4 linked regions of the Homo sapiens genome follow. The protein of the gene in region 1 interacts with the protein of each later gene in a pairwise test. Each region holds a gene or a part of one and is shown on either strand. Other genes may lie near its edges. The genes, in order: CRB3, TMEM222, SLC39A9 and HMOX1.

The links.
Region 2: the proteins of CRB3 (region 1) and TMEM222 interact in binary tests that used the Homo sapiens proteins (3 or more experiments, as listed by UniProt).
Region 3: the proteins of CRB3 (region 1) and SLC39A9 interact in binary tests that used the Homo sapiens proteins (3 or more experiments, as listed by UniProt).
Region 4: the proteins of CRB3 (region 1) and HMOX1 interact in binary tests that used the Homo sapiens proteins (3 or more experiments, as listed by UniProt).

Annotation. Positions count from the first base shown.
Region 1 is NC_000019.10:6,459,950-6,467,276, reverse strand, and holds CRB3 (protein crumbs homolog 3 isoform a precursor), read right to left. Parts: upstream 3,007-7,327; 5' UTR 2,927-3,006; intron 2,670-2,926; 5' UTR 2,576-2,669; coding exon 2,494-2,575; intron 1,733-2,493; coding exon 1,659-1,732; intron 812-1,658; coding exon 605-811; 3' UTR 327-604; coding exon of another isoform or gene 255-326; 3' UTR 56-254; downstream 1-55. UniProt on the Homo sapiens protein: Involved in the establishment of cell polarity in mammalian epithelial cells. Regulates the morphogenesis of tight junctions.
Region 2 is NC_000001.11:27,317,684-27,325,180, forward strand, and holds the start of TMEM222 (transmembrane protein 222), read left to right. Parts: upstream 1-4,479; 5' UTR 4,480-4,514; coding exon 4,515-4,708; intron 4,709-6,190; exon of another isoform or gene 6,191-7,497.
Region 3 is NC_000014.9:69,394,848-69,401,701, reverse strand, and holds the start of SLC39A9 (zinc transporter ZIP9), read right to left. Parts: upstream 3,011-6,854; 5' UTR 2,333-3,010; coding exon 2,237-2,332; intron 1-2,236. Other genes in the region: ERH (enhancer of rudimentary homolog), read left to right, coding at 3,469-3,471, 6,790-6,854. UniProt on the Homo sapiens protein: Transports zinc ions across cell and organelle membranes into the cytoplasm and regulates intracellular zinc homeostasis. Participates in the zinc ions efflux out of the secretory compartments.
Region 4 is NC_000022.11:35,384,091-35,391,113, forward strand, and holds part of HMOX1 (heme oxygenase 1), read left to right. Parts: intron 1-2,594; coding exon 2,595-3,086; intron 3,087-5,773; coding exon 5,774-5,873; intron 5,874-7,023.

The sequences.
Region 1 (7,327 bases):
TTTGTCACTTCCATCTCAGCTAATGCACCCACCAGCTCAAACACACCAATAAAGCTTTTGTTACATCTCACTACTAATTTTATATAAATATATAAAAGTGAATAGCCCCATCCTCTCTTGACCTCAGGGGCAGAGTCTTTGAAGTACCTTCTTCCCTGCTATTAAGCACTGGGTGGATCTGACTGCCCAGAGAGGGCACTGCCTTTCCCCAAGGTCACACAGCAATGAAGGGAGACAGATGCAGGAGAGGGGACCTAGATGGGCAGGCAGCCCTGCACCGTCTCCTTGGAGTCCTGAGGGGCCCGGGCCTCGGCTGCATGGGAGAACTGAAAGAAAGGAGAGGGGGTTGTGGGGCCTGCTGGACACACAGAGAAAAGTTGGTTCCGCAAGCAGGGGGGTGGGTCCCGAGCCCCAGCACCCTGAGCTGCAGGCACAGCCAAGCAGAGGCAACATGCTGCACAGAGCCCACCACATGGGTGCCCCCAGCCTCTCCCCACAAGTCCTCCTGAGCCATCAGAGGCTGGTGTCTCGGTGGCAGCTGCGGTGTACAAGCCAGCAACCCGCAGTCCTGGGCAGTGTTGGTGGCTGCAGCAGGCCCCAGCGTTCAGATGAGCCGCTCTTCCGGCGGCAACTTGAGGTTGGGGGTCGGTGGCACGCGGGCACCCACCTGCTCCTCGCTACTGGGCCGGTAGGTGCCCTCCGTCTGCCGCTTCTCCCGAAGCTTCCGCACCAACAGTGCCAGCCCCACAGCCAGGAGCAAGGCAGCCAAGAGGGAGAAGACCACGATGATAGCAGTGATGGCTTCTGGACGCTGCAGAGAGGGGACAGGTGTGAATCACCTGAGCCTGGGTAGCCTGTCCACCTCCACCTGAATGGCATCCCCCTCATCACCCCCTACCCCACAACACACACACACACATACACACATCTGCCACTTTTGGTGATCTGATCCCCACAGTGGGGCTTCCTGGATCCCTACCTACCTTGTCTGGGGTGCGAAGGCTCCCCACCACCTGCCATGTCCGGGACACCCCTCGCAAGCACCTGCCATGTCTGGGACTCCGGCTTTTTTTTTTGAGACCGAGTCTTGCTCTGTTGCCCAGGCTGGAGTGCAGTGTCACAATCTCGGCTCACTGCAACCTCCGCCTTCTGGGCTCAAGCAATTCCCCCTGCCTCAGCCTCCCAAGTAGCTGGGATTACAGGTGTGTGCCACCCCGCCTGGCTAATTTTTTGTATTTTTAGTAGAGACAGGGTTTCACCATGTTGGCCGTGCTGGTTTCAAACTCCTGACCTCATGATTTTCCTGCCTCGGCCTCCCAAGGTGTTAGGATTACAGGCGTGAGCCACCGCGCCCGGCCGGGACTCCTGCTTTCATCACATCTACCAAGTCTGAGCTCCTTGCTCCCCCACCCACCTGAGAGGCATATGGAATTCCTGAGCCCACACATCTGACAGCTACAGTATTCCTGCCCACTCCCTCCAGGGTGTCCTAGTCTTCTTGGTCTAAGACTTCAGGTCTCTCCTACTTAGAGCTCTCCAAAGCCACCCTGACCTGCCACCTCTGGGGGGAGGGGGTGTCTAGTCCTCTCTACATGCTATATGTGTGACCCCTAGATAACATCCTTGCTGCCATCTTCCCACATATACCTCCAACTCACCAGGTTGCCATCGGAGCTGGAGCTGGTGGATGAAGGCAAAACAGTGCTATTCTCATTTGCAGAAGTGGTCTGTACTGTGGAGGGTGAAGGCAGAGAATAACTCAGTCTCCATCTTTCTCTCCCATCCCCGCCCATCTGCACCTGCTTTGGGCATTCCCCTTCACCTCCCCCTAGCAGGTCCCAATTCAAACTCTGCCTTTCATTCGCACAGAGATGGTTGGGTGTCTTGCAGGTAAGACCTCTCCCTTGGGTGTTTGCTCCCCAGGACACCCCCCCGACCCAGTCCCGCAGAGCCCAGTAGGGTGTCCAGAAGTCCACCCCTCCCCTACTCACCTCTCGGCCCTGGGCCCTTAAGGATCTGGGCGGGCCTAGCTTTTCCCTGGAGTGTCTGACTCACACCTCCCCACAGGCTCCCAAAACAAATCTAAGACTGAATGGCTGGGGTCTACACCTTCAGCCAACCAGGTCGACCCGGCTCGGCAGGCCTCCTCCCAGCTCCCAGTTCACCCAAAAACACCTGCACTATACCAAGACTCAGGTACGCAGCCCTTACCTCCCCCCAAGTCCTACTTAGGAGCCCCCACTCCAACACACAATTCCACCTCGCTGGGGAACTCAGGTCTCCTAGACCAACTCCCAGTGTCCAAGGAAGAAACTAGAAATCTTAATCCCCCCGAGCCCTAACCCTGTAGACCCCTCCCCAAGGTATTTCTTCCCCGCTCCCCAATTCTTGACCCTCTCTGCGCCCCAGATACCCAGCGCTTCTAAGCCACGTCCCCAGCAGAGATCCAGGAATCCAGACCCCTCCCCCCCAGCGCTCTCAGCTGGTACCTACTTTGCCCCCAGGCTCGGCCCCAGCGGGCCAGCAGGAACGGCAGGCCCAGCGCCAGAAGCAGCCCCAGCCCGGGGTTCGCCATGGGCTGGGTGGCGGGTTGGCAGCGCCGAGGAAGGGGCTTCTCGCGCTCGCCCCTCCTACCGCATCTCCGGCCAGGGGCACCTGCGACGGGGCACCTGGGGACAGGAGAAGGAGAGGCCCAGGCGTTGGGATCGGGGTGGGGACCCCGGCGCAGGCCCACAGGAGAGACAACTGGCGCCAGGGCACCCATGAGTCCCGCCCCGCCCCAGCCGCCAGAGGTCAGCGATTAAAGATTAACTCCCAGGAGCGCGTTCCTGGGCTGGGGAAAGGAAGGGGACGGGACGGGACGGGACGGGACGGGCAGGGTGGACGGGCGAGGGGGCAGGCCTAGCGGTGCGTCCTGCCTTCCTACCTGGCCCGGGCGTCTTTGACCTAGCTCAGGTTCCTGGTCCGTGTCCCTCCCTCGAACCCTCGGTCCGTCGGTCGTTCTGTGGGTCCGACCCCACCGGCTCCGCCCTGTCACGTGACCCGGAAAGTTTAGTCACTCACCTGGGAGAGCGCACTTCCGGCTTGTGCACCTGAGCCTCGCTGAGAGGGCGGAGTCAAGAAGGGGGCGGGGCCGCGCTGTGGGCGCACCTGTAACGGGACCCCAGTCCCTTAATGGGGATGCGGGGAGGGAGACCGCGGAAGCGCGCAGGTGTGAGGGGGACCTTACACCTGCATTGCGAGCATATCTGTGGGAGCGCACAGGTGTGGAGACGCACGGGGTATGTATGTACCCGTGCACTAGGCACTCCTGCCTAGGGCAGACTTGGATGGGGAGCGCTTAATGAGAAAAAATACCTGCCCAGGCGCAATGGCTCACGCCTGTAATCCCAACACTTTGAGAGGCCGAGGCAAGAGGATTGCTTGAGGCCAGGAGTCCGAGACCAGCCTGGGCAACACAGCGAGGCCTCATTCTCTACAAAAAATAAATAAATAAATAAACAAATAAATAAAAAGAAGAAAATAAGCCGGGGGCGGTGGCGTGATCCTGTAATCCCAGCGCTTTGAAAGGCCGAAGTAAGAGAATCACTTGAGGCCAGGAGTTCGAGATCAGCCTGGCCCACAGACGGAGGCCCCATATTTACAAAAAATAAGAAAATTAGCCAGATGTGATGGCACGCACCTGTAGCCCCAGCTACTTGGGAGGCTGAGGTGGGAGGATCGATTGGGCCCAGGAGTGGAGGTAACAGTGAGTGAGCTATGATTGTACCACTGTACTCCAGCCTGGGTGACAAAGTGAGACCCTGTCTCTAAAAAAATTTTAAAAACAAAAAAACAGCTGTATGGTAAACACCTGTGTGGAACCAAACCTGTACAGAAGACAACTGCACAGGTGTTCACATATAAGAACATACAGAAAACAGATGGCCGGGTGCGGCGGCTCACGCCTGTAATCCCAGTACTTTGGGAGGCCTAGGCAGGAGGATCACCTGACGTCAGGAGTTCGAAACCAGACCAGCCTGCCCAACATGGTGAAACCTTGTCTCTACTAAAAATACAAAAATTAGCCGGGTGTGGTGGCAGGTGCCTGTAATCTCAGCTACTCGGGGGGCGCTGAGGCAGGAGAATTGCTTGAACTCAGGAGACAGAGATTGCAGTGAGCCGAGATTGCACCATTGCACTCCACCCTGGGTGACAAGAGTGAAACTCCATCTCATAAAAAAAAAAAAAAATCTGCATTGAATCACAGCTATACGAAATATAGCCAAGGCTGGGCATGGTGGCCCACGCCTGTAATCCTAGCACTTTGGGAGGCCGAGGCAGGTGGATCACGAGGTCACGAGTTCGAGACCAGCCTAGCCAAGATGGTGAAATCCCCGTCTCTACTAAAAAATAATCAAAAATTAGCTAGCGTAGTGGTGGGCGCCTGTAATCCTAGCTACTTGGGAGGCTGAGGCAGGAGAATCGCTTGAACCCTGGAGGCGGAGGTTGCAGTGAGCCGAGATCACGCCACTGCACTCTAGCCTGGGTGACAGAGCAAGACTGTCAAAAAAAGAAAAGAAATATAACCAAATGGATACATACCACCAGGGTGGACAGTATCTCTATAGAACACGCCTGCATTATCATCACAAACAGCTAACTAAGGCACTCTGATGTGGAATAGACCTGTTTTAGGAACATATCTGCATGGCTCACCTATGAAATGTACGGCACTTGCATTGGGGGAATTCCTGGGTGTCAGTGTCTTGTAAATACCTGTATGAGACACACCTGCATTTACGTAAACCTGTATGGGACTCGGTTGTATGGAAACATACCCAGATGGGTGTATACTTAACTGAAACACACCTACGGGGCGGGAGACTGTAGAATGCATTCATGGGTGGAGGGAAACCTGCTCAGAAACATACCTGTGAGGTAAGAGAAAGCACCTTGTAGGAGGAACACCTGTATGGAATTGAGCTCAAGTGAGGGGAAGAACTTGGAACATCTGCACGGGGCACACTCACATTGACACACATCTGTGGGTAAAACCATCAGGGCAGGGGCTCACATACACTGAGGCCCACCTGTCAAGAATGTATCTGTGAGAAAACACCTATTTAGGGGCACTTACATGGAAAAAAACCTCTGTATCACTCCATGCTGTATGGCACCTGCAAGGAACAACTGTAAATGAAAACCTCTGCTGGGGAGCCTCTTAGAAGAGACTCATTTGTCTGGGGCACACCTGTTCCAGCACACCTGTCTAGGCAGAGGCTGGGCGTGAACTAAATATGCCCTCACGACTGTATCTTTGTTTTCTTTCCTTTTTAAAAAAAATAATAATAATTATTATTATTATTTGTAGAGTTGGGTGTCTTGCTATATTGCCCAGGCCGGTCTCAAACTCCTGACCCCAAGCGATCCTCCCATCTCGGCCTCTCAAATTGCTAGAATTAGAGGCCTAAGCCACCGAGACCGGCCAATGCTGTATCTTTGGATAAAGGATGATGATAATAACAAGACCCCCTCCTGAGGACCCTTGGGTGACAAGTGATGATTAAAGAATAATTAGGCCAGGCCGGGCGCGGTGACTCACGCCTGTAATCCCAGCACTTTGGGAGGCTGAAGCGGGAGGATAATCTGAGGTCAGGTGTTCGAGACCAGCCTGGTCCACAGGTGAAACCCCCCCCCCCCGTCTCTAATAAAAATACAAAACTCACGGCTGCGGTCGGGCATGGTGGCTCATGCCTGTAATCCCAGCACTTTGGGAGGCCGAGGCGGGCGGATCACGAGGTCAGGAGTTTGAGACCAGCCTAACCAACATGGTGAAACCCCGTCTCTACTAAAAATACAAAAATTAGCCGGGCGTGGTGGTGTGCGCCTGTAATCTCAGCTACTTGGGAGGCTGAGGCGGGAGCATTGCTTGAACCCGGGAGGCGGAGGTTGTGGTGAGCTGAGATCGTGCCATTGCACTCCAGCCTGGGCAATAAGAGCGAAACTCCATCTCAAAAAAAAAAAAAAAAAAAAAAAAAAAAAAAAAAAAAAAAAAAAAAAACTCACTGCTGCGTGCGATGGCTCACGCCTATAATCCCAGCACTTTGGGAGGCTGAGGCGGGCGGATCACGAGGTCAGGAGTTCGAGACCAGCCTGGCCAACATGGTGAAACCCCGTCTCCACTAAAAATACAAAAATTAGCTGGGTTTGGTGGCGGGCGCCTGTAATCCCAGCTACTCGGGAGGCTGAGGCAAAAGAATCGTTTGAATCCGGGAGGCGGAGGTTGCAGTGAGCCGAGATCGCGCCATTGCACTCCAGCCTGAGCAACAACAGCGAAACTCCGTTTCAAAAAAAAAAAAAAAAAAAAGATAATTAATTCTTTCTAGGGTATAGAGTGATGGTTAAGGATCCCAGATCTCTTTAAACCCTGTTTTGCCCCTTAGTGGTCATCAGGACTGGGGAGAATGACTTAACCTCCGCTTCCTTATCTGCAAAGTGCGAACGCCAGTACCACCTACCTTATAGGGTTTTGGCAAAGACGACTCGAGAGGTGAGTAAAAGCCCTGGCATGTGCAAAGCACTGAATCAAAGTGAGATTTGTTATCGAGTATTCGCTGTCAAGTGGTCTGGGCTCCCTTCCCCCTAATGGTGGATCGAGAAACTGCGCCCGAAACTAGCAGTAGGGACATTCCGCAGGTGCAGCGAGTGCGACAGGCTGGGGCCCTGCCTCCAGCGCTCGACCACTGGGATCCTCAACCCCGCGCCCGGGTCACTGAGCCACCCCCTCCCCACGCCGCTCAGCGTCTGATTGCGGCCGCGGCCCCTTTAAGATCTCCTGGCAGGCGGTGGGACTGCGGGCTGGAGGCAGTCGGGGGTCTGCGGGGAGGCCCCGCCTAGGTGGGAGAAGAGGCGGGGCGGGCGGGCTCAGCCCAGGAGGCGCTGACCAATAGGAAACCGACTTTGCAGCCGCGCCGCGCGTTGATTTTCTGTTTCCCAGTCAGAGTGGGAACCGAGAAAGGAAGCGCGCGGGCGGGAAGAAGGGACAGTGGGAGAGCATCGCTCCTGGATCTTCTGTTTCTGCGGCCGAGCGGGGAAGGTGTAAGGCGCGGGCGGGCAGAGAGCGAGCGAGATGGTGCACGGTTCTTGCGTGCGTCTGGGAAAAGCGAGAACTTGAGTTCCTGAAGATTAGTGGGTGTGGCGGGGAGGTCAAGTGGAAGGGGATTATGAAACCCAATCCCCGACAGCGCTCTACCTTGCCCCCTTGGGCAAAGGGGGAAAGGGTAAACTGAGGCACGCAGAGGCGGAACTCTGAAACCAGACCTGAGACCACTGAGCTCCCTAGCCC
Region 2 (7,497 bases), on another chromosome or scaffold:
CACCTGTAATCCCAGCTTACTAAGAAGGCTGAGGCAGGAGAATCACTTGAACCCGTGAGGCAGAGGTTGCAGTGACCCGAGATGGCCCCACTGCACTCCAGCCAGGGTGACAAAGGGAGACTCCATTTCCAAATAAAACAAAAAAATGGAATGGAAAAGGAAGTCGTTTTGTGAACTCTGATGTCTAAAGGACCAGTGGGTTTGCTCTGAAATAGTTTATTGCACTGAGTTGGTCCCCTTAATCTCCTCCCCACCATGGGAAGGTTTGGAGTCATAATGGAAAGAGGCCCAGCTTCCAGGGGCCAGAGAGGGCAATGATGAAGCTGAGCAGAAGAGAGTACGCTGTCCTCCCACATGCTGCATATACTGCAGCATGCCCCTGGCTCAGGCTCTTTCCCTGGATTGAGGTGATTCTTCCCCAGAGCCCTTAAGGAGACATCTACAGTCAACAAATAACTCCAGTGACATTACCTGAGCACTTCCTCTCTGCCAGTTGCCTAGTTGGATACAGGGACCAATAGATCCAGTTAGTCCCCTTCTCAAGGAGTTCACAGTCTCTTGGGAGCGACAGACATGTAAACAGCTAATGCTAATGCAAGTACACATGAATATTCAATAGGTGGAAACACAGCCTTCGTGCTCTGGGAGCAAAGAGGGAGCATTTGCCTGAAACCTTGAAAGTAGTGTAGAAGAGGAAAGGAAGGACATCCCCGATGAGGGAATGGTGTGAGCCAACACACAGGGTATGAAGTGCAGGACTTGTTCTGTGAAGGGCAAACAGGCCAGTGAGGCTAACTCCAGGCAAGTCCCGAAGGAGACTGTGAGAAATGAGGCTGGAAGGAAAATTTGAGGGCATCATGAGGGGCCTTGAATGCCAGGAGCGAGATATCCTGAAAGAGGAGATTTGTGAGTCCTGGGGACTTATACATGGGGCCAATTGAGGGGGTGCGCTGACTCCCACCAAGAGAGGAAATGCCCCAAGCTCACCCTTCAAACAAGCAGCATCTTACCCTCAAAGGTTTCCCAGCTTGACAGTTTCAGCTCTGGCATCCTTCCCTCCCCCAGCCAAACCCATAAGTGGATCCAGATGGTCATTCCTATTTTAGGTTGGGGTGTGTGTTGGGGGAGGGATAGCTCTGAAACCTATCAATCCTGTCCCAAGCTCAGCCATAACAGGAGCTTCCTCCAGGACCCTGCTGTGATCCTGTGAGCCTGGAAGGAAATATTAGTCTTTGATGGAGATTTCCCATCTGTTTATGGGTGATAAGGAAGCAACAGCAGAGGAGTCCAGGGCACAGGCCAGAGAGACTCTTACAATTGGGTGAGAGAACCAAGGTGTATATGTGAGAAGGAGTGTTCTGCAGGGATGAATCCATTATTTAAAAAAAAAAAAAAAAAAAAAAGGCCGGGCACGGTGGCTTATGCCTGTAATCCCAGCACTTTGGGAGGCTGACGCAGGTGGATCACAAGGTCAAAAGATCAAGACCATCCTGGCCAAACATGGTGAAACCCCATCTCTGCTAAAAATACAAAAATTAGCTGGGTGTGGTGTTGCGCACCTGTAGTCCCAGCTACTCGGGGAGGCTGAGGCAGGAGAATTGCTTGAACCCAGGAGGCAAAGGTTGCAGTGAACCAAGATTGTGCCACTGCACTCCAGCCTGGTGACAGAGTGAGACTCTGTCTCAAAAAAAAAAAAAAAAAAAAAAAAAAATCTTGTGGATGGGTTGTGGTGCGGGGCAAGCCTGTGGGACAGGCACCAGAGGATCTGGCTTCTACCTCCAGGTACCCGGCCCTCCTCATGCCACGTTTCTGCAGCTGCCTAGGCCAAGGGTAGGATGACGTGGACCTTAGGAAAGGAGCCAGGGCTCTGTGGTCTGATCCTCTGCCTGAGCACTGTTCCCACCAACCCAAGCCCATTGAAAAGGTTTGGGACACCAAGAGGTAGCAGGTTCCTGCGTTTAGACTGTAACCAGCACGTGATACCAAGCCTGTAAGTATTTGCCTTTCATTCAATTTAACAAATATTGATTAAACAAATACCATGCACTAGGCACTATACTGGGCATTGGGTATACACACGTTAGCAAGACAAATAGAGTTTCCAGTCAAGTGGGGGAGGCAAATAGTACATAGCTACAAAGAAGCTATGAAGAAAAAGAACAGGAGATTAATGGGGGCTTTCTCATTTAGATTGGGAGACCAGGGATGGGCTGAGAAAGTAATATTTGATCTGAGACTGGAAGAATGAAAGTTAGCCGCTTTAAGTAGATAGGAGTAGTATTTCAGGCAGAGGGGAACAGTGTGTGCCAAGTCCCTGGAATATGAAGGAGTGCATGAGAGGAACTGAAAGAAAAGGCCAGGATGGCTGTAGTATAGTAAATAAGGAAGGGGCATGGGTCCAGATGGTGCAGGGCTTTGTGAGCCATAGTAAGATATTTGTGTTTCATACGAAGTGCAACGGGAAGCCATTGAAGTTTGGCAGATTAAATGTGGTACGTGTATTAGTACTACCAAACTTGTGGCAGGCCCTGAGAGACTTACTTTGGTTGTTTATTCATCAATACCTACAATAAATGTTTAAAGGGTACCCAGCAACCCTGTGCTAGAATTATGGGCTGACAGTCATGGTAGGGAGATGTCTAAGGCACAGACCTTCCTCACAGCCTGTGGTCCAGAAGAGATTAGATAACTACAGTGATTGAATCAAGAAGTCATGTAATTTATTCTCAACAACTGTAAACTACACACCTAATCTATTCCAAACCCTGTGCTGGATGCTGGTTGTTGCCCTTCAAGGATCACACACTGCACAGGGGTCAAGGAGAGGTACAAACGTGCTCAAAGAATTTGGAGTGGGTTAGAATCATTTTCTAACCCACTGTAATCATTATCATGCCTGCGAATCTCTGAGGTCTTTATAAAACATCCATTTATTCAATCACCTAATAAATCAGTAAACATCTAGTGGGCATATGCTTTGCACCAGGAACTGTGCCAGCTACTGAAGTCAAGGACCTTAGAGTTCTATAGCAGAGACAGACATCCCCCACAAAAAAACATGAAAATATTAGGTGCTACAAACAGGACAGCAAGCTCTCCATAGATCAGCATTGAGGGAGGGTAATTCAGTGGAAGAAGGACCTTCCCCAAATGGGAAGCTCCTAACTTCCTGAGTGCATTTGTCCATACCTTCCTTTACCTGATTACTCTTTTTATTCTTTTTTTTTTTTCTTTAAGGCTGATTTTTAGTGGCAGCCTTCCTTCTGACTTTGGGCTGTCCCCAACTTCCCCTCCCCACCCCAGTAGACCCCAGTAGACTTCATTTTCTTTGTCTTGACATCCTTTAAAAAGCCAAAAGTCTCCAACATTTGAGCCTGGCTTCTCTCTAATTATGGTTGTGTGTGATCTCAAACAATTAACTTCCCTGAGCCCGTTTTCCCATTTGTACAATGAAGGGATTGGATCACATCTAAGGCTTATGATTTACTCCAGTAAGTATTCACACTCTTGCACACACTGCTCTGCACGGCCTTCCTTTCTTTGTACCGCTGCACTCATACTTCCACTCCTGTGCCACATGGCAAACATCAAGACTCAACTCAATAATATCCTATCTTCCAGCAAGTCTTCCCTGTATATACAATAAAACACACACACACACACACGTGCGCACACACAACTGTGTGTGTCTTCCTTTATGCTACCACTACCTCGTGAGAGGGCCACAGAATGAAAAGGGCAAGGGAGGTATAAGACTTGGGTTTGGGCCAGGCGCGGTGGCTCACGCCTGTAATCCCAGCACTTTGGGAGGCCAAGGCGGGCGGATCACAGGGTCAGGAGTTTGAGACCATCCTGGCTAACATGGTGAAACGCCACCTCTACTAAAAATACAAAAATTAGCCGGGCGTGGTGGCACGCGCCTGTTATCCCAGCTACTCGGGAGGCCGAGGCAGGATCGCCTGAACCTGGGAGGTGGAGGTTGCAGTGAGCCGAGATTGTGCCATTGCCCTCCAGCCTGGGCAACAAGAGAAAAAATTCCGCCTCAGAAAAAAAAAAAAAAAAAAAGACTTGGGTTTGCATCGTGGTCTCTCACCTTTTGAACCTCAGTTTCTCACCTGTAACAGGAGGGAATACCTAATTTGGATGTCTAATTAGTTTATGGGGATTAGAAACAATTCATGTCAAGTGCTTGGCACCTAAGAAGTGCTCAATAAATAGCGACTGTACCACACCTCCTAGGAGCCCTCAGCGTACTGAATTAGAGTTCTCTATAAGTCTCCGGCGCTAGACTGCGAACTGCCTGAGAGCATCCCTTCTGCAGCCGCGGGGCATAAGCGGCAAAGACTCGGGGCTGGCAGGCGCATAGGGAGTGGGGCGGGGCTGGCCGGGCCCAGAGGAACGCGGCTCGGATTCCCGGGGGAAGGCCAAGCGGGGCGGACCCCATCTCCGGGAAGTGACGCCATGGGGACGAGCGGCACCAGAGCCGGGGCCAGTCGGAGCGGGGCGCGCGCCGCATGGCGGAAGCGGAAGGGAGTTCTCTGCTCTTGTTGCCGCCGCCGCCACCCCCGCCCAGGATGGCGGAAGTGGAGGCGCCGACGGCGGCCGAGACGGACATGAAGCAATATCAAGGCTCCGGCGGCGTCGCCATGGATGTGGAACGGAGTCGCTTCCCCTACTGCGTGGTGTGGACGCCCATCCCGGTGCTCACGTGAGTCTCTTCCGGCATCCGCCTGGGGACGAGGAGGGCCCAGGGAGAGCCGGAGTCGGGCCGGGCTAGCCTCCGGCCCCAACGCGCAGCAAGCCTTTTCCTCGGGTCTGGCCCGCACGCCTCGCCCAGTCACCAGAACCCCGCCATCCATGTAGTGCCAGTTTGTGCACACGGCTGGGACACGCTCCCTGCTCTCAATACACCTGGTGTAGCCAGGGAGAGAGTTGTAGGCCAGCAGGAAAGGGCAAGTGGCTGGGAGACTCGAGCTGTGAGTGTGTAGAAGAGGGAGCCCCTTATCGGATCTGAGGAGACATTTTTATTAATTCACTGGTTTATTCTCTCATTGAGCAAATGCTTACTGGTCGCTTACCATATTCCAGACATACTGCTGGGTCTGGGAGCAAGAGTGGGAGTTTGGTTGGGACCACACGAGATCCTGGGATGTCAACATTGGAAGGGCCCCCAGAGATCTGAGAGTCCAACCCTTTGTCTCACGTGCCATCTCAGTTGCAAACTGGGTTTAGATCCCAGGTTGTCTGCCTCCCAGACCAAAGTTCTTTCTGTAACATCAGCCTTTGTCAGGGGAGAAGCAGGTGCTCTGGTACTACTTGGCGCCTTTTGGGAGGAGCTCTCATATGGGGAGAGGTGGTTTGCCCTCCTGCTTCAACCTTGACAGCTGATAAACGTAACCCCTCCTCACCGTGCTGGATAGTTTGCCAAGCTCTTAAACACCCATTTTATCAGAATTAAACATCCATTTTCTAAGGTAGGTTATCTTCTCAGATGGTGAAGCTGAGCTGCTTGTAGCATTAAGTGTCTTGATCAGGTTCGCACCCCAATAAGCAAAGGCATGAAGAGCTCAGTCTTCTGATCTAACTTGCTCTTTGCACTACATCTTATCCACTCTCACCTGATGGGATAGCTTGTTCCGCTATCAATAACAGCCAGTGGTGATGTGGAGAAGGGATCATTTGGGGCCTTAGGTGTTGCTGATTCTAAAAAGATCGTAGTTTTTGAATTATGTTAAAATACTTGAATTATTTTGTGTTTTCAAGTACTTATGCATATAAGAGCATCCAAATCTGTTCTTTAAAAATAAAATATTGGGACAGGCGCGGTGGCTCATGCCTGTAATCCCAGCACTCTGGGAGGCAGTGGAGGGTGGATCGGTAGGTAGTTCGAGACCAACCTGGCCATCGTGGCGAAACCCGTCTCTACTAAAAATACAAAAATTAGCTGGGCATAGTGGCACGTGCCTGTAATCCCAGCTACTCTGGAAGCTGAGGCAGGAGAATCGCCTCAACCCGGGAAGTGGAGTTTGCAGTGAGCCGAGATTGCACCACTGCACTTCAGCATGGGCAACACAGTGAAACTCCGTCTCAAAATAAATAGTGAAATAAAATCTTAGGAAAATGTGCACATTAATTCATTCAGTGTTCTTCTAACACATGTGCTAAGTGACCCCTGTGTTCCCAGATAGTTCTAGGTGATGCGAATATACAGTGATGAATAAAGGAGATATGGTCTTTAGACTTTTGAGAGTTTAAGTCATAGTGGAAGGAGATAGACAGTAAACAAGTAAGCTAATAAAAGAGCACCTGATAGTGATGAGTGCTGTGAAGAAAATAAAATATTAGTGTGAAAATAACAGGGGCCGGGCGTGGTGGCTCAGGCCTGTAATCCCAGCACTTTGGGAGGCCCAGGCGGGCGAATCACCTGAGGTCAGGAGTTCAAGACAAGCCTGACCAACATGGAGAAACCCCATCTCTACTAAAAATACAAAATTAGCCGGGGTGGTGGCACATGCCTGTAATCCCAGCTACTCAGGAGGCCGAGGCAGGAGAATCACTTGAACCCGGGAGGTGGAGGTTGCGGTGAGCCAAGATCGTGCTTTTGCACTCCAGCCTGGACAACAAGAGCAAAACTCCGTTTCAAAAAAAAAGAAAATAACTGGGAGGGATACTCAGGAAATGTATTGGTTTTCTTAAAACCTGTCTTGTGATCCTAAACTCTCTTTAGCCTTTCTTATTCTCAAAAACACCATCTGTGGCGTGGTCCTCTGCGGAGAATGGTAGCAGCGTGAGGTGGAGGCACCACAATCCCTTGTCACCTGGGCCAAAAGCAGCTCATAGCCCATTTCTATTCAGATCTGTGTACAGGTGTTCATAAGACCAAGATGAATAAGACACTGTGTTCCTGTCAAAGGGTTCATGTTCCCTTCTGTGTTAGTCCATTCTTGCACTAATACTTGAGACTGGATAATTTCTAAAGAAAAGAGGTTTAATTGACCCATGCTTCTGCAGGCTATACAGGAAGCATAGTGGCTTCTGCTTCTGGGGAGACCTCAGGAAGCTTCCAGTTATGGTGTAAGGCAAAGGGGGAGGGAGGCATCTCACATGGCGGGATTAGGAGCAAGAGGGAGTGAGGGGGGAGATGCTACACACTTTTAAACAACCAGATCTTGGGAAAACTCACTATCACGAGAACAGCACCAAAGGGATGGTGCTGAACCATTTATGAGAAAACCAGCCTCATGATCCCACCACCAGCCCCCACCTCCAATATGGGGACTACAGTTTGACAGGAGATTTGGCGGGGACAGATCCAAACCATGTCACCTTCAAAGGACTCACCTCCAGCAGGAGGGAGAGAAAGGTCAATTAGCCATCGTAGTATTACTGTATAGTGATGATTGCAGAGCTAGGCATAGATGTGGCGCAAGTAACTGTCACCTGTCTTTGGAGGAGAGATCAGAGGAGGAAATGGAACCCAAAGATCTGTCTACCCCC
Region 3 (6,854 bases), on another chromosome or scaffold:
CCACAAATGACATGACATACTAATTATCTGTATTAATGACCCAGTTATTAACACCACTCCTGTAAACATTTCCTTCTAGTGAAAAAGGAAATAGTATATATCCGCATATTGCAATAATCATTCAAGGTAGTTTGAAAAAATACTGGAATTGGTAAAGTTAAAGGCATTTTATAGAAATAAAAAGTTTTACTGGTTGCTTATCAGAATTAATTATGATTATTCATAAATGTTACTTCAATATGTTTAAAAATACACAAACCAACCCAAATCTCACACATGTCAGCCCTACTAATGTCAATTCAATTCTAATATAGTTATAAGAAAATATGGTTATGTCAAAGGAAACATAGCAGGTTCACAAAGTACTGGGCAGGCAGGTAACCCAAATAAGTGAAACAGGCTTCAAGGGCAAGGAGGACTGTGCCTAACAGCTGCTACTCAGCCCGACCCAACCTTTGCCTCTAGGAAATACTGGTAAAGAACAACAATAATAAACTTCTGCTAATGGAACAGTCTGCAGGCTGGATTTGGCACACAGGCTACCATGTATATGTACCATGTACCTTTGCCGAAATGCTTAGTGGCTACGAACTAGTCTGAGTCAGAAAAGCTAGACTGAAAAAATACCTCTCTTCTGATTCTAACAAACTTCATGAACCTATCCAGTCTCCGTTTCCTCATCTATATGTCACTGATTTTTATTTTCTTTTTTTTTTTTTTTAAGAGAAAGAGTCTCAATGTTGCCCAGGCCAACTCCTGGGTTCAAGCAATCCTCCTACCTTATCCTCTTGAGTAGCTAGGACTACAGGCGCGCCCCACCGCACCCAGCTTGAGTTTTTTAAGTGAAGTTAGGTAATGCACGTAATTTTTTAAAATGCTATCATTAGATGCTGAGGGGTACAGATTAAAAAGGAAACAGAAAAAGAACAACAACAATTTAAGCATCTGTTCCATCTGGCTATGGGCTTTACTTTTCCTCAAACTGACAACACCTTGTCCCACCTTCTTTCCCACCCACAGGCTATTTTCACCTGTAATGTCTCCTCTTCCTCAGGTTTCTTCAAGGTGTACTTAATATTTCATTTATACCTTTCCTTTCTACTTCAGGCCTCCTTTGAAAGTACTTTCAGGAATGGCACTGAAACTAGGGCCTATTTTACTGCTGAACTCTAGGACAAACTCATGAAATCTTGTTCCCTTTGAATGTAGTAGTTTTTCCCCCCTAAATCTTTGAACGCTGTGCACTTCGTGAATTCCTTTTGCCTACCTAAAGGACCTATCAGCATGTTCACTGAACAGTGCTTTCATCTATCCCTCTTCCCGGGACCCTCGCTTAACATCTGTTCAAGGTGCCAATCAAATTAACGAAAATGTCAAAACGTATTAACCAAAAATTCATTGCTAAGCAAATAGATTTGAAACAACTTCAGAATATCAATTCCAAGGCTCCCCTTCTTTAAAAGGAAATGTGAGTTAAGAACAATCTTAGTTTTTTCTTACATTCATTCTAGTACAGACATCCAAAAAACAAAACAGCTTTCCTCAGAAAGGTGTGTTTGACTTTCTCAAAAGGAAGTTATCATATTGATTTCAGTTCATGTAGAAAAATAACATTCTCCATTTCTTTTTTTTTCTTTTTTGGAGACAGGATCTCACTCTGCTGTCCAGGCTGGAGTGCAGTGGCCCAAACACGGCTCACTGCAGCCTCAACCACTTGGGGTCAAGCGATCCTCCTGCCTCAGCCTCATTTGTAGGGACAAAGTCCCGCCACGTTGCCCAGGCTGGTCTAGAACTCCTGGGCCCAAGCGATCCTTCCACCTCAGCCTCCCAAAGTGCTGAGATTACAGGCGTGAGCCACCGCGCCCAGCCCTCCATTTATTTTCTTGATAACAATCTGGAATCTTGATTCCATGAAACCTCTGAGAATCAAAAGAAATGTTATGGTGCCTCTCTCCAGGTAAATGCACAGAACCTCAAATTTTTGTAAGCAATTCTAGGGGATTCAGAATACTCCAGGATCTTCCGTGGAATATCTATCCACCCCAGGTTAAGAATTCCACTAATGAATATGAGGTTTCTTTCTATTATTAAGTGTCATGTATCTTTTAAAAAAGATAGTCTTTCTTAATGAGACCTTCAGCTTTGAGATTTAACTAGGGAAGCAGCTTCCCTTTGCAACTAAAACTACTATCTCACAGCCATCCTGACAGCTGACAGAAAATTGAGAATTTCTTACCTCTGAGAAATTAACAGCCAAGGGAATGATTCCGGCCACGTAACATCCCACCAACATAGCCAGAGACAGCAGGCTAATGGAGATGAAATCATCCATTCTGCCCTCCTTTATTCACCCACAACCACTAGACAACAAATTTCCAGTGGCTTTAAATGGTGCTTAGGTTCTTTAAACAGGTGTGGTGGTTCCAAGAGAGTGGGCTTTCCAGTTCTTTAGGCCTTCCCACCAGCAGATGTGTTCACGAGGCACCTTCCTCTTGAACGTACCCGGCAACAGACCCTTTTTGCTGATATTAGCACCAGAGAAAGCTTACAGCAATCTAAGGTCCCAGGCTCTGGGTTCTCAGATGCCAGTCATTAGATTCTCGTGGGTTAACAGAGATGGGAAAAGTCAATGGGGAAAATGTGCGAATGATCGATTTCTTCGATTGTCGGATTGAGGGTGGCACAATGTCTTAGGCGGCGGCGGGTAAGTGACTCAAGCGAACCTGTTCGTTCCCTAGGCGCCCCTGTCTCCAAGAGGCGGCCCCGAAGGTGATCCGCCCCCCAGAGCAGGAAACCAGCCCACCAGTCCCAGCAAACTCTCCTCCGAGCCTGGGATGAGGAAAGGAGTCCTGCAGGTCTCTAACGATGGGTCCTAGGGGTTCAGCAGCAAAGTTGACACAAAGCTGTCTCTGCCCTATACCCGGTGCTGCCCATGGTACTGCACTCGACCGGGCCTTGACCCGGAGTCGCCGATACTACAGCTGCCATGGCCGCCAAGTGGCATCTCTTCATTCCATCCACTTCCGGATTGTCTAACCACCCCCTCCTTTACAAAGGCACTTCCGGGTTACAACCGACCTCCGGCCCAGGATACTTACGTTGCCGCCATTTTTGAGTAGGGCTAATGAAAGATGTCTGATGTCACTGTCTATACCGGTGATCACTTGAGCCGTATGTTTAATAACGAAAGTACGGAAGACAGCGTCTTGAAAAAAAATAATTCTTCCTAAAGCTTGGAAACTTTCCCTTACCTTTTTGCCTTTATCGAAGATGGCTGAAACAGAGTCAGTAGCTGCTCTAGCTGCCGGAAGTGACTGTGCCTCTATGATCCAAAAGGCTCTTTTGCGTTGCACTTTCGACGACTTCCGGCGGCTCCTCTCGCGAGGATTGGCTGTTAGCGGCGTTGTAGTTAAGCTCGTGTAACGGCGGCGGTGTCGGCAGCTGCTGTAGCGAAGAGAGTTTGGCGCGATGGTGAGAAAGGCCTCCGCGGCTACCCGAGTCCGAGTCCCCGGCCTCCAGAGCGACCCCAGCCCCATACGTTTTCCCCTCCCCACGAGCCCCATGCAGCGCCGCGTGATGCTCCCCGCCACTCTAGTCGGTGGATTGACCCTTCTTCCCGCCGCAGGGACGCCAGGCCTGACTCTAGGCCTCGGAGCCCCGGTCCGCCCTGCGGTTGCGCGCCCGCCTGCTCGCTCGGGTCCGGCGTGCCTTGGGCCTGAGGATGAACTCTCTCCCGATTGTTACTCGGTAGAGGGAGACGTGGGGGAGGTGTTTTGTTTTTTGAGATAGAGAGTCTCACTCTATCGCCCAGGCTGGAGTGCAGTGGCGGGATCTCAGACCCCTGCAACCTCTGCCTCCTGGGTTGAAGCAATTCTCCTGTCTCAGCCTCCCTAGTAGCTGGGATTACAGGCGCCCGCCACCTCGCTCGGCTAATTTTTTTATTTTAGCAGAGACGGCGTTTCACCATGTTGGCCAGGCTGGTCTCGAACTCCTGACCTCAAGCAATCCACCCGCCTCGGCATCCCAAAGTGCTGGGATTACAGGCGTGAGCCACCGGGCCCTGCCGGATATGGTATTTTTCCCTCCAAATGCTCTAGCCTGCTGTAGGAACAATGGGCCAGGGTTGTCTAACTATTCTCGAAGCTGACAGATCCAGCTATACCCAGCATGTGGGCCAGGAGAGGACGTATTTGCTTTGCAGTGTTTTTTCAGCTTTCGTTTTCCTGTGCTCTGCCTTTTTTTTTTTTTTCCTGTTTTTGAGACCTCTAGGTATTGCGTGTGGCGCGTCCCTCAGCCCTCGATCCTGTACTTATCTGTATTTATATCCTCTTGGGGCTGGAGGCTGAAAAGTAGGCTCAGCTCAGAGACCAGCTCTATTAGAACCCAACCGGGATGATCAGTAAGCTCCAATTCGAAGAAAGTGACCAAAACTGGCTTGAGAGGTGGTATAATCTGTAAAGAATTTGAGCAGGAAAGCATTGCCATTTAAAAATGATAACCACTTGACCACAGTTTTTAAAATGTATCATGTTATGTTCTTAGTGATTTTTAATCCTTGTCTTTGGGCAGTAAGTACTGAAAATAGTAAACTTTGCCCGGTGTTCATTTTAAGACTAGATATAAAAAGCAACATGCTGTATAGCTTTTTCCATTCTTACCCTTTCAAATTAGTCCTTTAATTTGCATTAGAATTGGAATACAATTATTATAGTAGCAGTTGAGATAGCTAGTGTATAGGGCAACCTCTGTTGCAAGAATGCACGTGGTTTCTACAAAATTATTTTTTCTTAAATGACTCGTTGAAACTTTTTGAGTAGCTAGCTTACAAAGACTTCTGTATAACAAATAATCTAATATGATGCTTTCTGTGGCTTTTAAATCGATTTAACAAAGGCTTTGACTGCTCAGGTTATTACAGGTGAGAGTTAATCCTTCGTCTCTTGTCACCAAGTTCCGTTTTTATGTCAAACCCTCTGAAACTTTTAGTCAAAGTGGTTTAGTTCTTGATGGGGAGAGAAGGGTATGATAACCCTTGGTTTTGCATGTCATGTTAAATGTACTATTTTTCCATTGTTTATTCAGAAAGTCTGGGCTTCAGCTATTTCTGTTCCAATTTGATGGTTAAAAATTCTGATCATTTTGTCCAGGCGCGGTGGCTCACGCCTGTAATCCCAGCACTTTGGGAGGCCGAGGCAGGCAGATCACCTGAGGTCGGGAGTTCAAGACCAGTCTGACCAACATGGAGAAACCCCATCTCTACTAAAAAGACAAAATTAGCCGAGCATGGTGGTGCATGCCTGTAATCCCAGCTACTTGGGAGGCTGAAGCAGAAGATTCGCTTGAACCCGGAAAGCAGAGGTTGCGGTGAGCTGAGATCGCGCCTTTGCGCTCCAGCCTGGGCAACAGGAACAAAACTGTCTCCAAAAAAAAATTATGTTATTCCAAAACAGTTTAGGGTTCCTGTTAGGAAATTTTTGTTTTCTGGTTTTTGGCTGAAAAATACTAGTACAGCAGAAGAGAAGGAAAAAGGTGAATAGTTTGATTTGGGACTGGATTTACAGTGGAGTTGCATCATACTTGCATTTAATTAACCTTACACATGTAGCAGAAAATTGGATGGGTCATATTTTCAACAGACCAGTGAATTCTCAGCTGGATGAGATTTTTTGCTCCCCAAGGGACATTTGTAACAAAGAATCAGTCAACCCAAAAGGTAATAGAGCCCACGTTGAGAAAACACTGAGATTGATTTGTTAGTGACTGATCACTAACAAAAACATGTTTCCCAGTGAGCACGAAGTGGAAGACAAGTCTGTCTGCTATGGGCATTATTTCACATTTCTCATAGTGTGATGACCTAACTTTCTGTGTGATTCTAATATGTGATTTTGGTATGAGAAAGCCCAGTAAGGCAAGTCATCTACTAGGTGAATAGTTTAATGGATTTTTAAGGGTAATTCTTATGATATGTTTATATTGCTAATTTATCTACTGCTTTAATGTTAAGTCTAACCCCTGGATAAAATGTGACTTTGCTCTTACGCTGAGGTTGGAAAAAAAGCTTAAGTTGAAACCATGCTTGTGATTATTATACTATTTCCCCTTTTGTTTCCTTTCATCAGCCCATCTGAGTTTTTATTAGTGACTTAAGAGCATTAAAGATGGAAAGTGACCACTGGAGACAGAAAACCTAAGCAGGTTTATAATTTAGTTGGGAAGAAAAGATAGAAAAGGAAAAGGAGGGCAAGGTAGCTTATACTGATTACTTGTAGGCAGTAAGTACGGTAGGACTGGGAGACTTAGGGAGACCGTACAGCAGAGTTGTGAATCCAGCTAGATACTATACTTAGACTAAGACATCAATATTTTTGTGGGAAAAGTATCCTAATGACTTTTTTTTTTCTTTTAAGAGATAGGGCCTCACTCTCCGATGCAATGGTGTGATCATGGCACACTGCAGTCTCAGCCTCCTGGGCTCAAGGAATCCTCCTGCCTTAGACTTCCAAAGTGCTGGGACTACAGGCATGCACCCGGCAAATTTTATTTTTTTGTAGAGACAGGGTCTTGCTATGTTGCCCAGGTTGGTCTCAAGCTTCTGGCCTCAAGTGATTTTCCCCCTCTCAGCCTCCCAGAGGATGAGGATTATAGGCATGGGATGCCATGCCTGGCCTCTCTAATTACATTTTAATAACTAGCAATCATTATTGCATTACAAATGGGGATTTTTTTTTATCATACTATGAATTTCTCAAATAGAAACTTATATTGAAATCATGTTTTCCCCTGCAGTCTCACACCATTTTGCTGGTACAGCCTACCAAGAGGCCAGAAGGCAGAACTTATGCTGACTACGA
Region 4 (7,023 bases), on another chromosome or scaffold:
ATTTTATCTGAGACAGAGTCTCACTCTGTTGTCCGGGCTGGAGTGCAATGGCAAGATCTCGGTGCCCTGAAACCTCCGCATCCTAAGTTCAAGCGATTCTCCTGCCTCAGCCTCCCAAGTAGCTGGGACTACAGGTGCCCACCACCACACCTGGCCAATTTTTGTATTTTTTTAGTAGAGACAGGGTTTTACCATGTTGGCCAGGCTGGTCTCGAACTCCTGACCTCAGATGATCCACCCGTCTTGGTCTCCCAAAGTGCTGGGATTAGAGGTGTGAGCCACCACCCGGCCGAGACATGCTTTAATGAGGAGAGATTTAATCTGTGGTTCCAGGCTGGGTGGGGTCCTTGGGCCTGTAATGGGTCTTCCTCATCCTCCTCCCCTCTCCCTTAAAAAGATGAGGTACACCCAGTTGCTGCAGTGTGACTGGAGACAGTGGGTGCAGGGAGGTGAATGCTGGAATATCCCATCCCCAGCCAGCTTAGACTTTGGATTTTGCCTCTAAGTCACAGGGTTCTAAGGAGGCGCCAAGATCCATGAGAGAATCCAGTGCTCACTTACATTAAGCTGGTGGACGTGGCACTTATCACAGCCCTTCTCATGTGAGCGCTAAGTGCCAGGCTGCCCTCTGTGCTGGCCCAGATCCTCTCACTTAATCCTCACACCAGCCCCATCTAGTATGTGGCAGGTGAGGGAACTGACTAGCACAGTTGGCTAGCACAGTCACACGGACCTCAGATCATCTGCTCTAGGATAGGATAGGAAGCTGGGACCAGAGAAAGCAAGTGGCTCACCCATGGTCACACAGTTAAGGACTGGCAGAGTTGGGTAAGAACCAGGTCCGTCACACTCAAAAACCCAGGCTCTTTTGTACCAGACTGCCTGGCTTTCTGTCCCCTCAAGGAATAGAGCTGCTTTGAATGTTTGTGGCTCAGAAATAACTCAGAAACTCCAACCTAAATGTCTTAACTTTGTTCTCCTTCAAATTTAAACGGGCGTATTAATGTGTAACGGGAGTTAGTGCCCCAAGCCAAGGTACACTCAAGACCTGTTGCCTCAGCCCAGCATGCAGAGGTGGTGGGGTTCAGAATAGGCCTCCAGGAAGGAGAATTGTGCCCTGTAGTTGGTTACGCAGAGGTCAAAAGCCAGAAGCACATGGCCAATCTCCTTTAAGCACTTTCATTTCAGCTGTTCCCCTCTCCTGAGCCATGGTGGGTCCCTGGCAATGCCCGGTCTTCAATCTAGTTTCATTTCTTACTAGCTGTGCAACCTCCATGTCTCATACCCTCTCTGAGCCTTAGTTTCCTTTTCTGTAAAATGGGAATAGCAATTCCTTTGTTGGATTTTTTTTTTTTTTTTTTCTGAGACAGGGTCTTGCTCACTCTGTTCCCCAAGCTGGAGTACAGTGATATGATCACAGCTCACTGCAACCTTGAAATCCTGGGCTCAAGTGATACCCCTGCCTCCGCCTCTGGAGTAGCTGGGACTATAGGCATGCACCCCCACAGCCATACCTGGCTTTTTTTTTTTTTTTTTTTTTTCTGAGTCAAAGTCTTGCTCTGTCGCCCAGGCTGGAGCGCAATGGCGTGATCTCGGCTCACTGCAACCACTGCCTCCTGGGTTCAAGCAATTCTCCTGACTCAGCCTCCCGAGTAGCTGGGATTATAGGTGCCTGCCACCATGCCTGGCCAATTTTTGTGTTTTTAGTAGAGATAGGGTTTCACCATATTGCCCAGGCTGGTCTCTTGGCCAGGCTGGTCTCGAACTCCTGATCTCGTGATCCGCCTGCCTCAGCCTCCCAAAGTGCTGGGATTACAGGCGTGAGCCACCGCGTCCAGCTGGCTAGTTTATTTATTTATTTATTTATTTTTATTTATTTTTTTGAGACAGAATTTCGCTGTGTTGCCCAGGCTGGAGTGCAGTGGCGAGATCTCAGCTCACTGCAAGCTCCACCTCCCGGGTTCACGCCATTCTCCTGCCTCAGCCTCCTGAGTAGCTGGAACTACAGGCGCCCGCCACCACGCCCGGCTAATTTTTTTGTATTTTTAATAGAGACGGGGTTTCACCTTGTTAGCCAGGATGGTCTTGATGTCCTGACCTTGTGATCCTCCCGCCTCGGCCTCCCAAAGTGCTGGGATTACAGGCGTGAGCCACCGCACCTGGCCCCAGCCAGCTAGTTTTTTAAAATAATTTTTTGTAGAGGTGGGTTTTGGGCTATGTTGCCCAGGCTGGTCTCAGACTCCTGGCTTTAAGCAATCCTCCAGCCTTAGCCTCCCAAAGTGCAGGGATTACAGGGGTTTGAGCCACCACACTGGGCCAGTTTGTTAGATCTTTATATAAGGATTCAATTAGGCTGCTTGTTTTGCCCAGTGGGGTAAAAGGTTTTTAGGCTGAGAAAGTGCATGATCGTCTTTTCCTCTTGTAAAAACCCCTCTGGCTGCTGTGTGAAGAGGATTGTAGCGAGGGGTGGCAGAAGGAGTCAGAGCCCAGCTGCGAAGTGAGGAGGGCCTTTCCAAAGGCAGTAGTGGACGGGACGGACAGAGGTGGGGGTCTTCTATGTGGCTGGCGGCCTGACCTGCTCACTCTGCTTTCAGCTGGTGATGGCCTCCCTGTACCACATCTATGTGGCCCTGGAGGAGGAGATTGAGCGCAACAAGGAGAGCCCAGTCTTCGCCCCTGTCTACTTCCCAGAAGAGCTGCACCGCAAGGCTGCCCTGGAGCAGGACCTGGCCTTCTGGTACGGGCCCCGCTGGCAGGAGGTCATCCCCTACACACCAGCCATGCAGCGCTATGTGAAGCGGCTCCACGAGGTGGGGCGCACAGAGCCCGAGCTGCTGGTGGCCCACGCCTACACCCGCTACCTGGGTGACCTGTCTGGGGGCCAGGTGCTCAAAAAGATTGCCCAGAAAGCCCTGGACCTGCCCAGCTCTGGCGAGGGCCTGGCCTTCTTCACCTTCCCCAACATTGCCAGTGCCACCAAGTTCAAGCAGCTCTACCGCTCCCGCATGAACTCCCTGGAGATGACTCCCGCAGTCAGGCAGAGGGTGATAGAAGAGGCCAAGACTGCGTTCCTGCTCAACATCCAGGTGAGGGTCGGGCAGCCTGGGGCAGCCTCTGCCTCCCCCCGTTGTTCCTCCAAGGGACCCTTCTCATTGTAGGGGAGGGTGCTATAGGTCATGGTTAACACAGGGAACCAGAGTTCCAGCACTGCCACTTACTAGCTGGGTGATCTTGGGCAAATGCCTTCATCTCTCTGTACCTCAGTTTCCCTATCTGTAAAATAGGGATAATAATGGTACCTATATCTTAGACTTATAAGGCTTGAGTGAATTTACAGCAGTAAAGTCCCCACAGCAGTGTCTGGCACAGAGGAAGCCCTCAAACATTCACTACTGTCATAATGGGACATGAGAATCAGTTGTAGCTCTCTGTGACAACAGTCTGTGGCAATGTATAAGTTGTGTGTGCACTAGTGTATAGCCAGGTTGGCACTCCCAGGGTTACAGGTGGCCTCTGCCTTCCAGGGACTCTCAGCCTAGCCAGAGAGGTTTACCTCTTTCTACAAGTGTCTCAAATCCAGGGGGAAGGTGGGGTTTGCGCAAAGCCTGGAAGGATGAATTCTTGGGCAGAGGTGGAGGGGTGAGGGGCTCCTTCTAACCAGATGTCATAGAGCCTTCTCTCTCTGCCACCCCCTGGAGGTGCCATGGGGCCTGGGGCTCGGGGTCATGCCCTCCTGGCTCCCTACTCCCAGCCGTGGATTGCAGAAGATTCTGGTCCTGGCCCCTGTTACGGAACAAGGCCTTTCCCTTCCACCCTCCCCCTTCAGAAAATCCAGTCCGTCTTGGAGGAAGAAAATCTGTGTCTTTCAGAGAAGTGTAGGCAAAAGAAAAGGGCCAGGTGCAGTGGCTCGCGCCTGTAATCCCAGCACTTTGGGAAGCCGAGGTGGGCGGATTGCTTGAGCTCAGGAGTTTCAGACCAGCCTGAGCAACATGGTGAGACCCTGTCTCTATCAAAAATAAAAAATAAAAAAAAATTTAAAGGAAAAAAATGTTTTTAAAAGAAAAGGGATTTGGAATCAGAACTGGCTCTCAGGCTCGTGCCTATAATACCAACACTTTGGGAGGCCAAAGCAGGAAAATGGCTTGAGCCCAGGAGTTTGAGACCAGCCCTGGCAACACAGTGAGACCCCATCTCTACAAAAACATGAAAAAATTAGCCAGACATAGTAGCGTGCACCTGTAGTCCCAGCTACTTGGGAGGCTGAGGTGGGAGGATTGCTTGAGCCCAGGAGGTCAAGGCTGCAGTAAGCCATGATTATGCTACTGCACTCCAGCCTGGGCAACGGCAACAGAGCAAGACTCTGTCTCAAAAACCAAAAAAACAAAAACAAAAACAAAAAAAAACGGCTCTTGGCTGGCCGGGCGTGGTGGGTCACGCCTGTAATTCCAGCACTTTGGGAGGCCGAGGCGGGTGGATCACGAAGTCAGGAGATCGAGACCATCCTGACTAACACGGTGAAACCCCATCTCTACTAAAAAAAAGAAAATACAAAAAAAATTAGCTGGGCATGGTGGTGGGCACCTGTAGTCCCAGCTACTCAGGAGGCTGAGGCAGGAGAATGGCGTGAACCCGGGAGGCGGAGCTTGCAGTGAGCAGAGATCGCGCCACTGCACTCCAGCCTGGGAGACAGAGTGAGACTCCGTATTAAAAACAAAAAACAAACAAAAAAAAACGGCTCTTAGTGCCTGACCTCTGGATCAGTCCTTGGGCAAAGCACTTAACCTGTAGGAGCTACAGTTTCCTCATCTGCAAGGCTAACAAATACCATTCAGCACACCTCACCAAGGCTGAATTTCACAAATCTAAACTCAAGAGAAGAAAGCAGCGGCAGAAGAGTGCATGTACTAGGATACCACTTAATATTATTTCAAAACAAGCAACGCAGCCTTTTGCATGGAGACACAGGCTAAGGACATGGGCGGCCACAGTGAACTCTAAATCCAGGATCATTGTTATCGGTTGGGAGGGCAAGAGCAGGCAGGGGAGCCAATTGGGCTTGGAACATCTTATCTCTTAAGGTGGATGAAAGGGATATGAATTTTCTTTCTTTCTTTCTTTCTTTCTCTCTTTCTTTCTTTCTTTCTTTCTTTTTCTTTCTTTTCTCTCTCTCTCTCTCTCTCTCTCCTCTCTCTCTCTCTCTTCTTTCTTCTTTCTTTCTTTCTTTCTTTCTTCTTTCTTTCTTTCTTTCTTCTCCTTCCTTCCTTCCTTCCTTCCTTCCTTCCTTCCTTCCTTCCTTCCTTCCTTCCTTTCTTTCTTTCTTTCTTTCTTTCTTTCTTTCTATCTTTCTTTCTTTCTTTCTTTTCTTTCTTTCTTGCAGAGTCTCGCCCTGTCACCCGGGCTGGAGTGCAATGGGGCGATCTTGGCTCACTGCAACCTCAGCTTCCCAGGTTCAAGCATTTCTCCTGCCTCAGCCTCCCGAGTAGCTGGGATTACAGGCATGCACCACCACGCCCGGCTAATTTTTTGTATCTTTACTAGAGATGGGGTTTCACTATGTTGGCTAGGCTGGTCTCAAACTTCTGACCCGTGATGTGCCCATCTTGGCCTCCCAAAGTGCTGGGATTACAGGGGCGCACCACCGTGTCCGGCCAATATTTTTCTTACCATCTTGTTATTTCCAAAGTATTTCCTAACACAACTTAAGGTCCTACCTTCAGCTGGGACCTGGTAGCATCTCTCACTGAGATAGGCATGTGTGTCTTTTGTCTTTTAGCTCTTTGAGGAGTTGCAGGAGCTGCTGACCCATGACACCAAGGACCAGAGCCCCTCACGGGCACCAGGGCTTCGCCAGCGGGCCAGCAACAAAGTGCAAGGTGAGAGCATCCAGGAAGGGGCACTTCCTCTGGGCTACACATGGAGGGACTTGGCTGTCTGACTGTAGTATCTCTATTCCTCTGTTTTCTGAATGTTTGGTGGTGGTGGGTGTTGTTTCCTGCTGCCCCACCCCACTGCCCCTGTAAGGACAGGTTCTCGCTATATTGCCCAGGCCAGTCTTGAACACCTGACTTCAAGCAATCCTCTTGCCTCTGCCTCCCCACATGCTGCAGTTACAGGCGCGAGCCACCATGCCAGCCTGAATGTTTGTTGTTGTTGTTGTTTGAGATGGAGTCTCACCCAGGCTGGAGTGCAGTGGCGCGATCTCAGCTCACTGCAACCTCTGCCTCCCGGGTTCAAGCAATTATCCTGCCTCAGCCCCCCGAGTAGCTGGGATTACAGGCGCCCACCACCATGCCTGGCTAATTTTTTTTTTGTATGTTTAGTAGAGATGGGGTTTCACCATGTTGGCCAGGCTGGTCTCGAACTCCTGACCTCAGGTGATCCGCCCACCTTGGCCTCCCAAAGTGCTGAGATTACAGGCGTGAGTCACTGTGCCCGGCCACCTGCGTGTTTTTGTATGAGAAGTGGAGTGCAGGCAAAAGGACCTGGGGTCAACCTTCAGCGTGTGGCTCTGGGCAAGCCATGAGACTTCTCCCTACCTCAGTTTCCCCACCCGTAAAATCCAGTGAGGTTCAGCTACTTCTAGCTTATTGGCTCAGAAGTGCACAAGAACCCCTCAGAAATCATGGGAAACTCCTGCCTCCTTAATTTAGACTCCTTTTTAGGCCTTTGGTCCCCTGATGTGGGCCAGGGAGTTGGGGACCTGTATCCAGCTATGAACCCACCACAGGAAGATGTCCCTTCTGAGTCTTGTTGTGTGTGAGCCCCTCCCTCATGTGCCTAAGAACGATCAAGGCTGGCTGTACTGAAACATCTTGGAAACTTCCAAAAAGACCAAAGTGCTCCACAAAATGTACCCTCACTAAGCCTAAAACACTGAGGGAGGGAGTGTGGCTTTGGGATGGGTAGCAATAAAGAGGTAAGGCTTAGCTACCTCCTGGCAGGTTATATTAGGCCTCCCCTCCTGTGCCACCCTAACCTACCTGGCTTGTGGCTTTCTCACTTGTGCCAGACCACACGGACCCC